Linked DNA regions of Homo sapiens. The protein of the gene in region 3 purifies or fractionates together with the protein of the main gene of each other region. This does not show direct contact. Each region holds a gene or a part of one and is shown on either strand. Other genes may lie near its edges.

Region 1 (4,611 bases), about 130 Mb from region 3:
ATATCCACAGATCATCCTGCCCATAGCATCACAGTCATAATGTCCCATAGCCAAATTGGACTTAGGACTCATGCCCCGCCCCCATTTCAGCATCAAAATGAGCCCCTGGAATTGGAAAGTCCTTGACTTCCACTTCTATATAGCTGAATACCTACTGCCAACCTCGCTGAAAACCCGTCTGGGTCCCTGCAGCAGCCCTACCTCCCTGAGACCTAGAGCAATCCCTTTCCTTCATAACCCCGTGTAAAAACTTCCTAAAGTCTGTCAGTCTGCACCTGAAAAACACCTTTCCTCCATGAAGGGAAGAAAGGCTAGAGGTATTTTCTAGGAGAACAAAGCGCAACAGTGCAACTACAAACTGTTTGGATGATGACCCACCAGTAAGCTATATATTTCACATTGTAGTGAAGAACATACTTAAATAGTATGTATGTCTCTGAAACTAAAATATCTTGCCATGTGTATAGTTCATTGTAAGGATGTACGATATTAATTCTAATCTTTTCTATTGAATTCCATTCTGTTTAACTTGTTTTTTGAGACAGAGTCTCACTCTGTCGCCCCCACTGGAGTGCAGTGGCGCAATCTCAGCTCACTGCAACCTCTCCCTCCTGGGCTCAAGCAATTCTTGTGCCTCAGCCTCCCGAGTAGCTGGGATTACAGTCACATGCCACCACACCTAGCTAATTTTTGTATTTTTTTAGTAGGAATTGGGGTTTCACCATGTTGGCCAGGCTGGTCTCAAACTCCTGACCTCAGGTGATTCTCCCACCTCGGCCTCCCAAAGTGCTGAGATTACAGTTAACTTGTTTTTTATATGCTGATCCTGATGCATTAAATTAATTTCACAGTTACTAAAGGGTCATAACCTACAGTTTGAAAGGTTCAACTGGGTGAGCCAGAAGGCCCAGAATTCCCCACTAGGGCCAGAACGGCACGTTCTTTCCTGACCTGGCTTCTCTTTGCTCCCATCCTGCCATCTCCAAGCCTGAAACATCATCTGTCAATTGCTTGGGCAACAACATGAGCATCTCTGAATCATAGCTGTGGGCAATCCTCCAGCACACAGACACCCACAGATGGCTCCGTACATCAGGCAGGTGTCAGCAAAGGCTCCAGAGGCTTCTGATGCTACAAAGCACCCAAGACTAGGGCTTCAACTCCACTAACCCAGGCTCCCTCTGGCTACCCATAATCCCCCACCCTCTGAGGAGAGCTCTCTACCTTTTTCTTCCTACACATCTTCCTATATATAACCCCTTCCACATCAGTCTCTGTCTTCCTTAACCCGTCACCCAAAAGGGTCTGACTACTGCCTCCTTCGCCAGGACTTCGTGGTGCTCCACCAGATTCTAATTCACCATCAAGACTTTCATTCTGACCACTTTTCCCTAACAGCCTGCATTAGCTCTACCGCTTCTCCCCACCCCACAAAGACTCCGAAGTGAGGACTGCACCAGTCCTGAAACACGTCAAACTCAGCCTTCCAGGGACAGGCTCACCAAGAGTCTAGAGTGAAAGGAAGAGGGAGGGGACAGAGAAAAGGTACCGATGTGAAAACAGGGTAGCTCCTGCCCTCAATATCATGGGGAAAGAAGACAGCCTCCATTCAATATTTTAATAAGAAATAATACATGTTACCCAATGACAAGCCAATGTGCAAAGCAAGTAACATGCCAAGTCTTCCAGGGGATAAGGACCACTAGAGGCCACCAAGGCAGTGATTCTCAAACTCATTCTGACAGCAGAACTCAGGGAGGTGTGATATTCTATGAGGGACTGCTTGAAATGTTACCCCAGGAAAAGGAAATAAGCAAATACTCTTGGCTGTCACATAGATGACACTTCATACTAAATTCCTGAATGGCTAAGTACAGTGGATGCCAAATATTAAGGTAAAAATTATGAAAGAAAACCTTACTGCTGAGAAAATTCTATCCAGTTAACCAAGTCTGCTCAGCACCTTGGAGAGGGGGGCCAGCCATCATTCAATGTCAGAACCCACACACATTACGCAGCTCCCAGAATACCAGGCTCTCGGGGAGCACAGTACGTGAGCCTCTGCCCAGAACCAGTCTTGAACAAGTAGGATGGGGTTTCCAAAAGAGAATAGGCAGGAGCGGAGGAACAGCATGTATGATGGATGGTGTATGGGAGGAAAAACATAAACCAGCAAAGAGACAGGCAGACCCATGAGAGTGCATCTCCATGCCCCACCCAGCACCAGCACCATCATGGACCACTCAGACCTCTGCTGCCTACAGCCCTGGAACTAACCACTCACCCAAGGTCAGGGTCCAAATCAAGCCACCAAAACTGTGGCTTCCATTAATTATATCACCTGGAGAACCTACTGAGGACAGCTGAGTGTTAAAGAAATGCAATCCCAGTAACTAACTTAGAGTGTACCACAGCAAAGGAGATGGCACTTTAACAGGAACATCTGGGCCAGCGCATTAGCAGCAGCATGACAAACATGATGCCATCAAAGCAGACACAACTGCTATAAACCTTCACTATAAAATCACCCTTCAACTTCTATAAAAAGAGCGCATGTGTACTGGGCACAATGACAACTCAACCCCCCAAAGTACAGACAAACGGCTTTAAACAGCAGCAGCTGGAGGCCATGGCATCTTGTCACTCCACTCATGAGCCGCAGGCCTGTGGGGACCCAGCAAATGGGCTCCCTAAATGTCTGGTCCCAGGGGGAAAGAAAGCCCTGCTGAGTTGCTGAACAGCCCCAGGGAAGAGCTTTTCCTCACTGCCCAGCCTCCTTCCTGAGAGGCCTCCAAAGCAGCCGACTGGTAGTGAACCTGAGGCAGGGGTGAAACAGAGATGCTGCAGACACCGCCTCCAGGCGAGGCCTGCCGGGCAATCCAAACTCAGCTCCTGGCACAGCATCGGCCCTGTACCAACCCGCAGGGGAGAGCCAGGCAGAGCTGGAATCCAGTAACTGAATCATCCTCCCATGAAAAACTCCAGCTCCCCAAAAGCTCATGCAGGGGCGGCCACCGCCACCTGCTCCCCCAACGCCCTCCCCGGGATATTGCTGGGTCCCCACCTCCATGCAGGCCGCAGCGTGGTGCCCAGGCAGGGCAGGTGAGGCAGTCCAGGGGCACACAGCCACCTTACCTCCGAAGTTGGCCAGCCGGCCAATCCTCGTCACAGGCACCTTCCGCTCCCGGGCATGCTCGCTGAGCTGGAGGGAGACGAGAAAGAGACCTGTGGAATCAGCCAAGGGGACAGGACCAACCTTCAGAGGCTCCTGTTGCCCCCACATCTCCTCTCCACCCCACAGTCAGCAGCTCCGCCTGACAGCACACTCCACCAAGAGAAGGCCACCACGCTCCTAAAAACCCCAGACCACAGCACCCAGGAAAAGTCCCTAGAGCAGAGCCCAAGGCCATCACTGCTGTGGGTGGCAGCTACCTCGGCCCTCCAGGGGCCTCCCATACGCACCGTCTGTTTGTGCTGCTTGTTCTCGGGGCGAGCCTTAGCCTGCCGGGCCTTCTCAATGTCCTCGGCTGTGAGGCCCCCAACAGGGGATTGGTCCTGGTGGAAGAACCTTCGCTGAAAGCCCATGGCAGAGAATGAGTCTCTGGGGTTTGCAAAGAGCCTCCCGTTGGCCCTGCCCAGAGGGGAGGAGGCCTGGCCGGGGAACCCGGCTTCTCTAAAGGGTCCACTGGCCACGTAGGCAGGAGCTGGGCCCTCGCTGTGGGCATGACCCAGGGATGGGGGCGCTGACTGGTCGGGAGCGGAGGCTGAAGAGAAGTCTGTGGAGGCTCCGGCTGCATGCGGGACTGAGAAGTGGAACTCCCCTTCTGGGCCGCCGAAGTTCTCAGCAAAATATTCTTCATGTTTATCCTGACCCTGCAGGGAGCAAAGGCCAGCATTAGGAGAGCAAGAGCGAGCCAGGAGCTCCTCCCTGCCTGTCCCCTGCTGCCCAGGACAGCACACCACCAGCATCCCGCCCCCTCCCACCTCCAGAGGTGGCACAGTGCTGCACCTGAGGCCCGGCACCCTTCCCAGCCTGGGAGCCGGGACCTGGGCTCCAGCCCTGCTTCTGTTGGGGCTCTGCTGTGTGGTCCTAGGTGGGACACTGAGCACCTACTGTGTGCCCAGCCGGGGCCAGGCCAAGTGCACACTACGCCCGCAGCGGGTTCCTCACCTATAAAACAGGGCCAAGAAGGCCTCCAGGGCTTTGGAGATGGTAAACCAGGGCGCAAAAGACAGGGAAAGCTCTGAGAGGTGAACACACAGCCTAAGGCCAGCAAGGGGTGAGGGAAGCACACCGACGGGCCCACCTAAGCCCACAGCTTACTGCAGACATGGATGCCACCCACCAGCCGGGGTATGCATGTAAGAGATCCTCACTGGAGAGGTGGTTACAACCAGGACCAGGCCTGGCCGTCCCTAAGAGCTCAGGGTACAGGGAAATGGAGGGGCAGGGGAGAGGATACGCCATGTTTTCTTTGTGATGGTCACCAAGGCCTGAGCTTCGGGCCCAGGTCCTTTCTGCTTCTGAACCAGGAGTGACCTTGAGTGAGCTCCTGACCCTTCTCTGCTACTTCCTCATCTGAAAATAGGGCTCCTCACAGTCACAGTTAC
Region 2 (4,611 bases), on a different chromosome or scaffold from region 3:
AAAAATTGAGCAAAAAACAGGTTTAAAGAAATAGAAAATAAATAGAAAAATGGCAGAAACCCAGCTACATTGATAATTACTCTAAATGTAATCAGCTAAACAATTTAAACATTCTGATACAAAAGCAAACATTGTCAGAAAGAAGCATGACCAAATGGGCTGGGTGTGAGGGCTCATGCTTACAATCCCAGCCCTTTGGGAGGCTGAAGCAGGAGGATCACTTGAGGCCAAGAGATTGCGACCAGCCTGGGCAACAACATAGCGAGACCCTGTCTCTACAAAAATAAAATAAAGTAATAATAATTAGCTTGTCATGGTGACTCACACTTGTAGTTCCAGCTATTCTGGAGGCTGAGGAGCCCAGGAGTTCAAGGTTAAAGTGAGCTATGATTGCCACTGCACTCCAGCCTGGGTGACAGACTGAGACCCTGGACCTCTCTTTTTTTTTTCTGAGACAGAGTCTCACTGTCACCCAGGCTGGAGTGCAGTGGCACGATCTCAACTCACTGCAACCTCTACTGCCTGGGTTCAAGCGATTCTCCTGCCTCAGCCTCCCGAGTAACTGGGATTACAGACGTGTTACCATATCCGGCTAATTTTTGTATTTTTAGTAGAGACGGGGTTTCACCATGTTGGCCAGGCTGGTCTTAAATGCCTGACTTCAAGTGATCCGCCCGCCTCAGCCTCCCAAAGTGCTGGGACTACAGGTGTGAGCCACCGTGTGTGGCCTCGTCTCTCTTAAAAAAAAAAAAAAGAAAAAGAAAAGCCATGACCACGTGACAGGCAGTCTACAAGAAAACCTTTAAATATAAACATATGGATAGGTTACAAATAAAAGCATGAGAAATGATGTACCAACCAAGGACAAATCTTAAGATAACTATAGTGGCTATCTTAGTATTAGACAAAGTAGACTTCAAGACAAGGAATATAACCAGACAAACAAGGACATAACATAATACTAAAAGGACCAATCCATCAGGAAGACATGACAATCATAAATACATCTGTATCCGTCAGACTTTCACAATATCTTAAGTTAAAAGAACTGAGAGGAGAAATAGATAAACTGATAATTATTCTTAGAGATTCCAACATTCCTCTCTCAACAACAGATAGAACAAATAAACAGAACATCAGGAAGCATATGTAAGTCTTGAATAACATTTGTAACCAACTTGACCTAACTGACATTTACAGAATACTAGATCCAACAAAGGCAAGGTACACATTCTGTTAAAGTGCAAATGGAAGATTCACCAAATTAGACTCTAAGTCCATTAAAAAAAAAGGCACAACTAAATAATTTAAAAGTATCATAATCATATGAAGTATGTTCTCTGATCCCACCAATTAAAACTCAATTACAGTAAGATTTCAGGAAAGTTCAAATATTTGGAAAATAAACTCAATTTACTAAACAACTCAGAGATGTAAGTAATGACAAGAAAAATTTGAAAATCACTTTGGCCTGCACAACAGTAAAAACATATCATCGAAATTTGTGGGATGCAGATGAAGCTGTACCTGGAGGGACATTTATAGTATTAAATACTTGTATTAGAAACAAAGAAATGCATGTGAGAACAAAGATCTAAGCATCTACCTTAAAAAGTCAGAATAAGAGCAAATTAAACCCAAAGTAAGAAGAAAGGAAATCGTAGACATAAGACCAGAAATCAATGAAACAAGAAAGGGACAAACAACAGAATTTAATTAATGACATCAAAAGGGGGCCCTCCAAAATGAACAGTAAAATGAATAAATCTCGATCTAGATTGATCAAGAAAAAACAAAATACAAATCACCAACATCAGGCATGAGAGGAGATCACTAGAAATTCTACAAACATAAACTTCTTTCAAAAAACTCCAGGCCCAGATGACTTCACTAGTGGGTTCTACCAAACATCTGAAGAAAAAAGAAAACCCAAAATCTTCCAAAATACAGAAGAGAAGGGAATACTATGTAACTTATTCTATGAAAATGGTATTACCAAGATACCCAGATACTCAAACCAGACAAAAATATCTCAAAAAAAGAATATCCCTTATGAATATAGACAAAAAACCTTCAACAAAATATTAGCAAACACTCTGACAACATATAAAAAGGATTATACACCATGACCAAGGTCATACAAAATTGGTTTAATATGTGAAAATCAACCAATGTAATATACTATATTAGAATAAGAAACAAAAACCACATGAGCACTTCACAAGTGCAGAAAAGCGAATGACAAAATCCAACAGCCTTTCATAATGAAGCACTCAGTAAACTAGGAATAATAACTTAATAAGGGCCATCCTGAGAAACCCACAGGTAACATCATACCTAAAGGCAAGACTGGATGCTTTCCCCTTAAGATCAGGAATAGACAAGGATCCCCACGCTCCCCTTCTATTCAACACTGTACTGGAGGTTCTAGCCAGGGCAAATAGGTAAGAAAAATAAATAGAAAGAACCCAGACTAGAAAGAAAGAAGTAAACCTGTGTCTATTCACAGATGACATGATCTTACACAAAGAAAACCCTGTTGGAACCAACAAATGAGTTTGGCAAGGTTCTAGGATAGAAGATCAATAATCAAAATCAATTTTGCTTCTATACAGTACTAATAAACCAAAATAAAATTAAGAAAACAATTTCATTTACACTAGCATTGAAAATAACACTTAAGAATAAATTTTAAAGGGGAGATGCAAGAGTTGCGCACCAAAAATTATAGAGCATTATTGAAACAAATTAAAGAAGATCTACAATAAATGGAAAGACATCCTGCGGCTAGGGATTAGAAGACCTAATGTTGTTAAATTGGCAATACTTCACAAACTCATCTACAGTTTCAATGCAATCCCTGTCAAAACCGCAGCTGGCTTTTTTATTGTTGCAGAAATTCACGTACAGATCCTAAAATTCACATGGAAATGCAAGGGAGGCAGAACAACCAAAACGATCCTGAAAAAGAATATACTGTGATCGAATGTTAAGTATCGACAGCATCCCAATCATAAACCCGAAACATTTAAAAACAGAAGGTAACTGGCAGGAATACGGCTTGCTGGAAAGCTGCAAGTGGCCCACGCAATTAGTAACAGCCACCTCTTTGCTCTGGCATAAATCTCAACCTTAATCAGAAGAAACTGCATCTGGCAAGAGGAGAGTGAAACTGGGTTTCTAAAACCACTACTTTTTTGAGAGAGGGCCTAGTTACAACCGAGACACTGCTTAGCAACAAAATCCTTTAGGAACTTACTCATTTCCAAAGTCATGATGGGAGCATTAACAACAACACAAATCAATGTTCAGGGCTTTAAATATAAGACCTTTTTGCCCATTCCCAGATCACATGGAATAAATCCTTTGCTAAACATTTGTAATTAAACAAAGATAAGCAGCAAGGTGACTGATCTTGCCATTCTCTTTTCCATATGAACTTCAGGTTATCTGACTCAATCTCTATGTTCCACTCTCTCTCACCCTGTGTTTGGAGTAGGGAAGAGAATGGATTTCACTGTCATAGGAGGAACAGCCTCCTCAGTGCTCTGACAATCAAGTAAAACAGTGCTCGAAAACAGACTCCTGGTCAGTGCTCTCCTTCAAGTATTACTAGCTGCTTTCCTGCTTTCTTGATTAGAATGGTTTTAATCTATTTTTCAATACCAACATCGGAGAGGTAAAAAGCAATGACTCCCCACAGCAGTATTTCTCAGTCTAGACAAGGAATCATGAGAAGAAAGGGCAATATCAGAATTTTAGACGGCCGTGGTGGAGGGTGGGCGTGGAACTCTTGCACTCCTTCTCAGACTATTTTTATTAGTTTATAGATAGCATAACTTCGGATGAAAAAAAAAAGGGGGAAGGTTTTCCAAGACCTATAACATGCCATGTACTTTAGAGACTTGCTCCTCGCAACAACTCTCTGCCATGGGTTAGCACTGCCCCATTTATAAGTGAAGAAACAAGAAACAAAGTATAAGAATTGAAAACTGTAGAAAGAAAAAAATGACAGAAGATTTATCCTATCATATCAGGTCTACATACCTGGTACTTCTAGTAGCAAAAAGTAAAGCCCAGCGGCATGAAGGCCATATTCTCGATACTGTACACTGACATTCTTCTTATGAACTATTTGAACAAAATGATAGAACAATGCCACCAGTGTACTATGGGAAACATTGTTCTCAATGAAGAAGGTCCAGATACTCTGTGGGGAGACCGCAAATCACAAAAGCCAGTCATTAGAGAAATGGAAACATTTCCTATTATTTGATTTTTGTAAGTTCTTGGTGCCTTACAAAAAGAGGAATAGAGTAGCCTGGCTCCTACTGCTAAATGTTTACCATCTTCAAAGGGACTGAAACAAAATATCAAAATTAAAGGTATATTATTCAAAATTACCAAGATAAATATGTATATAACATATTTAAATAATTAAACTTTCAAAAGAATTTTTTGTTAAGTTTGTAGCATATATACTTCAGAAATTATAGCTTAAAACTACACTAAGACTTTTGGGACACCATATATTAGTGATTATTCAGGAAAGTTATCCCTCTATTTATATTAAAAGGAACTCAAATTCCTTTACCAATAATTACTAACTGA
Region 3 (4,380 bases):
GGTGTTTGGCAAGGGTGTATTCCTCATAGGTAGTACTTTCTCCCTGTATCCTCACAGGTGAAACAAGCTCCTTCAGGGCCTCTTTTATAAGGACACTAATCCCATTTATGAAGGCAATGTCCTTATGATCTAATTATCTCCCAAAAGCCCCACTTCTTAATACCATCACCTTGGGGATTAGGTTTCAATGTATGAATTAATGGGGGGGACACAACATTCAGACCATAGCAGGGTCCAACTTCATTCTTTTGTATTCTTCATTCTAGTGTTCCCAGCACCACTTGCTGAAAAGACTGTTCTTTCCCCTTTCACAAGAGTGTGAATTGTCTTGGCACCCTTGTCAGAAAAACATTTGACCATATATGTGAGGGTTTATTTCTGGGCCTCTATTCTATTCCATTGGTCTTTATGTCTGTCTTTATGCCAGTACTACACTGTTGTGAACACCGATACTCCTTTATGTGGAAATCTTCCAGGTAAGGTTGGGTGGATGGATGTGTGTGTGTCTGTGTGTCTATGCAAGGAAAACTCTTAAATAACAGACTGTACACTTGCCAAATGTTAATGGGTCATTCTTCTCCATATTTTGAGATTTATATTAGAAAGTTATGGCTACATCCTAACTTGAACCACTTGGTCTCACAAAACAGAGACTGTTTCTAAGGAGAGGTGGGGAATGTTGGTGGACACCAAATGTCTTTCCCCTGGACCTTAAACTCTGATTCCAGTCAGTCTCATATGACTTCTGCTACATTTCCCCACAGTTTCAATCTTTTTTTTTGAGACAGAGTCTTGCTCTGTTGCCCAGGCTGGAGTGCAGTGGTGTGATCTGGGCTCACTGCAACCTTCACCTCCCAGGTTCAAGCAATTCTCCTGCCTCAGCCTCCCAAGTAGCTGGGACTACAGGCACCCACCACCACACCCAGCTAATTTTTGTATTTTTTAGTAGAGATGGGGTTTCACTATGTTGGCCAGGCTGGTCTCAAACTCCTGACCTCGGGTGATCCACCCACCTCAGTCTCCCAAAGTGCTGGGATTACAGGCATGACCCCGGCCCACAGTTTCAATCTTTTAATACCTTAAATATTTAAGTTACTAAAATAGCTAAGAAAAATTGTTCATTTTAAGTGCTAATTATTCCCTTTTCTTTTTTCTATTATTAAATATGTATTTTATGAATAAAAAGTTAATGTTTTTAACTAGGAATTAAAATGTACTTCTGATTTTTAGGTTTGTTTTGTGCCAGTTGTCATTTTTCATACACACACACACACACACACACACACACACACGCACACACCCCACCATCAACACCACCACCACCGTCGTTTCTGTAAACCAATCAACAGTGGAGACACTAGAGACTATTATATGAAAACTGTTTATTCTATAGCCTACTGGGAATTGGCCAGAAGTTAGAAGGACATTGGAAATGACTTTTAAATCTCCATTTGAGAAAAAGCATGCCATGAGTCTAAATAACCAATTTCATTTAGCAAACAAAATACAAGTAAACAAAACACAACTTCTCTGATGAATGAAGTGGTTACCATATTTTTTCCCATTGTGTAAAGATAGTTCTCATATGAAATATATCACCTAAGCAGTAGTAATCAGAATATTCTGCAAACTTATTGGGGGTAATTTAAACCCCAAATCGGAAGAATAGAATAAAAGACATAAAAGTCTTTCTTCAAAAGAAAAACAAAACAAAACAAAAAACAATACCCCTTCGGTGTCAAATGATACAGAAATGGCACTGGTTTCCTATATGTTGACTGAGATACTTTTTACTGCATAGCAAATTAAAAAGATATGCTCATCCCACTTTTATTTTTATGCACTACTTTTAGTTCTGCAGAAATAAAAGCTATACTGAATTTAAAACTTTTTACACACATAATCCTGTGCAAACTATGTAATACTTTGTTTGTAGGATATTAACCCAACTTTCTAATATATTTTGTATATGTCTCTTTTTGTTTATTTGAGACAAAGTCTCACTCTGTCACCCAGGCTGGAGTGCAGTGGTGCAATCACAGCTCACTGCAGCTTCGACCTCCTGGGCACAGGTGATCTCACTTCAGCTTCCCGAGTAGCTGGGACCACAGGCGTGCACCACCAGGCCTGGCTAACTTTTTGTATTTTTTTTTTTTTTTTTGTAGAGACGAGGTTTTACCATGTTGCCCATGTGGGATATTTTGTATACATTTCAAAAGGCAACTACAAAAATTGGTTTTTCATATTTCTACAAATATTTTATGGAATGTTTAATATCTTGTAAATGTGGAAGCTGTGACAAATTTTTGTATTTAGAAAGTATGACAATCTGAAAATCAACATTTTACAGAAGTGACACCATTCTGTTGAAACTGGAGTATACTGCACTTATATATCATTATTTCTAATATACACCTAGTTATTAGAGAAATTAGTGCACTAAAGGACAGTGGTGGTTTTTAAAAATGATTTCTTCACTGTGGCAAGTTTGTCCTCCTCTGTCCAAAGCAACAATTGAACCAACAGGCCCTTCTAATCTTATGCCAGCAACACAATGGGATCGAGGCCAGGTTCTTGTGCAATTTGTGAAACCTTTGGTTTGCAGAGTTGTTAGCGTAGTGGCTCGGCTCATCAGCTCTGAGCATTTGAATATCTAATGTTTCAAACTGTTAGTCCTGTTCTGATTTATATTCATCCCTGCCATTCCTATTAACTTAATTACACCTGCCCACAACTTAATTTACTTGCCTTTGTTACTACAGTTTGAACTCCAGCTACATTTTTCTAAGAAATTAAATTGCTAGGTTTTTATAGCTGACTGCACTCTTAGAACTTCTCTACAGACTTTATGATCTTTTTGGACTTTACTTTTTAGCACATCTTAGGAACTATTATGAAGTTTTCTCGCAGCACACTTGAAGTTAAATAGCTTTTTCCAAGTTTAATACAGTTTGATGGCTCTTCTCGGGGTGTAGATGAGTGGGGGCACTTACATTGCCCGTTGGAGGAGACTCTGCCTTCTGCTCAGCCAAAAATCAGTGTGAATCCCTTTGACTGTTCCATCTTTCCCCATATCAAACCTAAATTATTGATCTTCCACCTGTTCTCATTTCTTCTGTCCTGTCTCTTGTTGAGTCACAACAGCTGTTCCCCATGCTCTGCGTGGTAACATTCCACATGGTACTCCATAAAAGCCTGATATAGATGACCTCTCTATAACAGAACTGCAATTATTCTTGTCATGCTTCAGTTGTTTCTGTGGCTCTCCTCTGGACTCTCTCCAAATTCTCCTGCTCAGTTTTAGCAAGCTGGCCTGGAGTTCTCTCACACGGTCTGGCTAGCACAGTAATTTGCTTGTGGTTAAAAGCCTTTGTGCTCAGTACTGAGACTGCCACATAATGAATTTTCATTTCCATTTTATTCTGAACTTGCAAACATCAGAGATTCGTGCTATCTTCAGTGTTTAAGTGGTAATGCCTTTTGTAAAATAAAGGAGGCTGCAGGCCAGGCACCGTGGCTCATGCCTGTAATCCCAAAGCTTTGTGAGGTGGAGGCGGGCAGATCACTTGAGGTCAGGAGTTCGAGACCAGCCTGGCCAACATGGCGAAACCCCATCTCTGCTAAAAATAGAAAAATTAGCCAGGCGTGATGGTGCATGCCTGTAATCTCAGCTACTTGGGAGTTGAGGAATGAGCACTGTTTGAACCCAGGAGACGGAGGTTGCAGTGAGCAGAGCCGAGATCGCACCACTGCACTCTAGTCGGGGTGACAGAGTGAGACTCCATCTCAAAAATTAAAAAAAAAAAAAAAAAAAGCCTGTGGTTATTTTGATGGGATAGCAAGGATAACATGAACCATGTAAGGTTTGGCATAAATAGTTCATAGTTGACCTGGTCTGTCTGACTGTCTGAGATGTCACTGAGTCATTTGATGACCTTGAAATGCTAAAGCATTGGAATGAATGTCTGTAGATCAGGACAGAGGTGGGTTCAGAGAACTATTTAGGAGACATCTGGGTGGGAGTTGTGGCCAACACTGATTACAGGTGAGCACTGGGGAAAAAAGCCAGGATTGCAAGGAGTTAAAGATCACCCATTCAAGAAGTTTGGCAGAAGGAGCAAGACAGGAAATTTATTCATTTAGTGGCAGTCAGAGGTAACAATATAAGAAAAGCATTCTGAGTCTTCTTTTAGGCAAACTGAAATTTGCCATTAGAGAAGGGAGTTCTTTGTTTTTCGTTTGTTTTAGGGACTATTTAAAAAATAAGAACATTTGTGTCTTATTAGTTAAGGCAGCACTATCCAATAGAATTTTCTGTGATGATGGAAACAGTCTACATCTGTGCTATCTGGTATGGTGCTATAAGCCACATGTAGCTAT
Region 4 (4,611 bases), on a different chromosome or scaffold from region 3:
TGTTGGGAGCTCATATAACTTATTGGGAAACTTTATCTTAAAAAGGACAAATTGTTTCAGATAAAGTTTTTTAAAGTAAAAAGGCATTTTACATTAAAAAATTCAAATGTCAGGTCTATTTGCATTTAAAAGCAAGAGTAAAACTAAATCTTATGATACTAGGAATCATAAAGGAGAAGGGAAGAGTTTAGGAACCGGTACTTAGAATGTAAGACACTGCTGAGACTTTGATCTTAACCCTCTGTGAACCAGCTGGAGTATTTCAGAGGAGCTGCTGAGCGCTCAGTATCAATCCTAAAGGGCTACAGCGATTGGGCATGGAATCCATGTACTAGCAGCTGCTAAATAACTGGGGCTCATTCACTTCTAAAGGGATATGGGAGGATTTTACAAATGGAATACATCAGATACAGACTCTCCTCAGGTGCAGCTGCTAATCTAACAAGATTTTAGATAGCAGCTAGGTAAATTAACAGCAATTTCTGGCACTTTCTTGCATAGCCTAATGGCTATTTATAAAACACAGCATCACTGTTCTTCTTGACAACCACATACTCCTCCAAAGCAGTTTCTTTTTTGGCAATGATGGCAGCAAAGAGGGGACAAAATAATTTAATTCTAATATTTGTTCCACAGGCAAAATTGGTTTATAACATGAATTTACCTCCAGGAATCATCTATTGTTTAAATTTTTCATTTCGTATGCTGCATGGGCTTCTTGGAAAAACAAAATGGGCAACAGTAGCTATTGCTAAACTCATTTTTCTAAAAGCTAGTAACTAGCTTAGAATAGCTAGGAAAAAAGGAGTACTGTTTGGAATGTAAAGACCTAAGGTCTTCCAAAGTTTAAGGAAATGAGAAAATAGCTTAAAACACTCAACAATTTATATCAACTGAGCTCAAGGCCCAGGGTCAGGATATTCTGCTATGTATACTTGTTTGTCTCCCCAGCTCTCCAAAGTCCTTACCTAAAGAAAAGCAGCTCTAGATCTTGGAATTAAATGTGTCTAAAGCAATCAAGAGTCATGATTCAAATTTTCGATGCACTTTCGAGATGAATGCTGTAATGGTTCCCTCCTCTCTTTCCTGCTCTTTCTGCCTCACTTAAAGCACCCAGTGTTATTCTTCGCCCTAAGGGAAAATATTTCACTGGCTCAGAACCACAAAACTACTACTGCATGAAGAGTTTCTTCCTTAGTTGTAAGAATTCTTATTTCGAATGATCACAGCTTTGTGAAAGTCATCAAAAATCTGAGTGAATCTTCAAATTTGGTGGGAGGGGGCTAATCACCAGTTATTTCAATCCTGGCCCTGCCCTGGTTTTTATCATTTGCTTTTTTTTTTTTCTTTTTTCTTTGCTTTTCTTTTTTGCAGATTCTGGCTATCAGCCTCTTGACCATACCACTGAGCAAGAATATTTCAAAGAAAAATTTGCAGAAGTTGCTGTGAAAATGGCAGCTAGGTGCTACACAATGCTGTGCATTAGGATGATCCTAATGAGTCAGACGCTGTCTGAAATACGGCATGAAAAACTAACGCAGAAAGGGCAACACAACCAAATACAAAGCAGCAGCCCCACAGCCACAGAAACAGTGAGGTGATGATGCTCGCACACACACTGCCCTTTCCACTCTCCTGAAGCTTGGCAGTTTCTTGGTGCTTCTTTGCACAGGAGACTCCCATTTGGCTTTCCTTCTCCACCCCAGCCTTTGCTCTTCATTCTGTCATTAGATCTCAAGTGCCCACAGGTTCTTTTTACCATTGCAAGGATTATACTCTTTTCTGAGATTCTTCCACTCAAAACTCCAATTTCCCTGTTGCACAGCAGGCAGTAACGAAAGCTCTTCAGTGCTTGAGGTTCTGCTTTACTCTGTCCCCTCCCAGAAACACCAAATGCAGCCATAATCACAGCCTCTGAGCACTTGGAGGCTCATATCAGCTTTAGCATCCAATGTGTGATGTGGAAACCACCTAATGTAATGCCTTTCATTTCTGTCATCTTCATCAGCATCTCAAGTGCTGGTTTCTCTGTGTACCTATCCTATAAACACATCTGTGCCTTTTCTTGGTCCTCTGTAACCTGAACTCAAGTATCCTAGGAACAATAAAAGCTGAATCCTTTCTACTGGCCTCTGTGGGGCAAACTCATCTACCTCCAATGACTTGGAAGGACACATCCTCCACCTACTTGCCTTAACTGAAATGTGCAAGAGGAAGCTGCTAAATTCTAGCATGTCCCCATATTCCACAGGGCCCAGAGGAGGGTGCTGGTGTATTCCGGGAGCCTGCTGCTGCTTTCAGATCACTGATTCACCCTTATGCATCTTTGAGGTCATGCCATCTGACAATACTGTGTTGCATGCCTCCATGATACTGTTACTTGTTAATTTCTGGAGGTCAAGTCTTCATATTCAAGTCTTAATGTCTAAAGAGCACTCATTGCAATACACAGACCTCCAGTTTTAGGTTTCTTTTTTCAGAGACAGGGTTTCACTGTCACCCAGGCTGAAGTGCAATGGCCCTATTATAGCTCTCTGTAGCCTCAAACTCCTGGGCTCAAACGATCCTTCCGCCTCACCCTCCCAAGTAGCTGGGAATACAGCAGCATGCCACCATGACCTGCTAATTTTCATTTTGTAGAGAGAGGGTGTCACTATGCTGCCCAGGCTGGTCTCAAACTCCTGACTTCCAGTGATCCTCTTGCCTTGGCCTCTCAAAGTGCTGGGATTACAGGTGTGAGCCACTATATCTGGCCTAGCTACTCCTTCCCAAGCTCCTTTGTGGGCTCATCTCATTCTGCTGCCCCTTACATGCTGTATTCTCTAGGGCACATATGTGAACCATTTTTCTTATTCATAAGATCTCTGCCAGTAATTGCATCTGTCAAAGGTTTCACCTGCCATATAGATGCCATTGGCTACCAATATTTCTCTAGTCCAGACCTTCCTTCTGAGGTCCAAATCCATATACCCAATTGCCTTTTGCACTTGTCAACTAAAATATAGACTCTTCCAGTGAATACATTCAAAACCGAAGTGCCTGGCTGGGTGCGGTGGCTCATGCCTGTAATCTCAGCACTCTGGGAGGCCAAGGCGGGCGGATCACGAGGTCAGGAGTTTGAGACCAGCCTGGTCAACATGGTGAAACCCTGTCTCTACTAAAAATACAAAAATTAGCTGGGTGCGGTGGCACATGTCTGTAATCCCAGCTACCTGGGAGGCTGAGACAGGAGAACTGCTTGAACCCGGAGGCGGAAGTTGCAGTGAGCCAAGATCGCGCCACTGCACTCCAGCCTGGGCTACAGGGCAAGACAATGTCTCAAGAACAAACAAACAAACAAACAAAAACCTGAAGTGCTCATGATGACCAATACTTCCTTCCTCAGGTAGGAGAATCTTCATGCAGTCAACTGCCCAAGTCAAATACTTAGAGACTCATCCTAAATTCTTTCCTTTCCCAGAACTCCCTATATGCAACCAATCACAAATCTTCCAATCGTAACTTTCCACATCCCTTCTGAATCACCTCTACTTCTCCAACTCCTCAGCCCCAATCTTGGTTCAGGCTCTTCTCTCTCGAAGTTATTTAACATCCTTGGGGTTATGGTGTGTGTATGTGTGTAGTGTATAATCAAATGGATCACGATGCCTATGGAGAGGAAGCTCAAGGATCATTTGAAGGTCACACGGACTCTGGGTATATAACAGAGTGAAGAAGAGCAGAAAGTTTCTTTCTGATAATGTGAGCTCCTGGTACAATGTAAGCCCCACATAGCAGGAACTTTAATCTTTCTGGCTCACCACTGTATGTGTCTGGTACAGAGAAGATATTCAATACATGTTTAATGAATAAATGAGCTTATCAAAATATCATAGGCAATATCAAAAAGACCTTCAAGAAAAGTACCAATAACCAATAATGAAAACAAAACAATGAAAAAAGGGTTTGCAGCAAAAAGATTCAAACAACTTTTAGAAGGCAATGATTACAAAATTCAAAATTACAATTTATTCAAGAAATACATACTAAATGCCTACTATATAAGCATTATGCCAGGAGCTGGGAATACAGTGGAGAATAACTAGGGTACTGGTCTCAGGTTCGGTGGGTGACAAGATCTGTAGATAAAGAGATGAAATAAGAAACAGAAGCCATTCCAAGTTAACACAAAGGGCCCAAGGGGACTGGTTTGAGGTAATGGAGTGGTCCTTCTCTTGAATGGGGCGGTGTTTTCACATGCCCTTAGGTTTGTCAAATCATTGAACTGTACCCTTAAAATGGATGCACTTGATTGTATGTAAATTATTCCTCAGTAAGATGACTATTAAAGTAAATTAAAAAAAAGTATAGAAGTTATATTACATTTGCCCACTTTTAAGAAAAGCAAAACAAGAAAAAAAAAAAAAGAAAGATTAGAATGCTAGAGAATATGTACATGGCTGACAGAAGCAATAACACTGAATTAAAACAAGACAAACTAGAAATTCAAATCTAAAGCATGGAAAAATTAAATACGTTGGTGAGAAATATGTAAGAAAAAAATTAACCTTCAGAATAGGGCAAAGGTGTATAACCTATGAATAATAAGTGTGAACAAACTGAACTGCATGG

Evidence for each region.
Region 1: the proteins of DBT (region 3) and COQ8A purify together in Homo sapiens (co-immunoprecipitation; one large-scale study listed by IntAct). This does not show direct contact.
Region 2: the proteins of DBT (region 3) and NCAPD3 purify together in Homo sapiens (co-immunoprecipitation; one large-scale study listed by IntAct). This does not show direct contact.
Region 4: the proteins of DBT (region 3) and LYRM4 purify together in Homo sapiens (co-immunoprecipitation; one large-scale study listed by IntAct). This does not show direct contact.

Annotation. Positions count from the first base shown.
Region 1 is NC_000001.11:226,964,262-226,968,872, reverse strand, and holds part of COQ8A (atypical kinase COQ8A, mitochondrial), read right to left. Parts: intron 3,874-4,611; coding exon 3,463-3,873; intron 3,203-3,462; coding exon 3,136-3,202; intron 1-3,135. UniProt on the Homo sapiens protein: Atypical kinase involved in the biosynthesis of coenzyme Q, also named ubiquinone, an essential lipid-soluble electron transporter for aerobic cellular respiration.
Region 2 is NC_000011.10:134,212,889-134,217,499, forward strand, and holds part of NCAPD3 (condensin-2 complex subunit D3), read right to left. Parts: intron 4,211-4,611; coding exon 4,048-4,210; intron 1-4,047.
Region 3 is NC_000001.11:100,185,557-100,189,936, forward strand, and holds the end of DBT (lipoamide acyltransferase component of branched-chain alpha-keto acid dehydrogenase complex, mitochondrial isoform 1 precursor), read right to left. Parts: 3' UTR 1,363-4,380; downstream 1-1,362. UniProt on the Homo sapiens protein: The branched-chain alpha-keto dehydrogenase complex catalyzes the overall conversion of alpha-keto acids to acyl-CoA and CO(2).
Region 4 is NC_000006.12:5,218,372-5,222,982, forward strand, and holds part of LYRM4 (LYR motif-containing protein 4), read right to left. Parts: intron 1-4,611.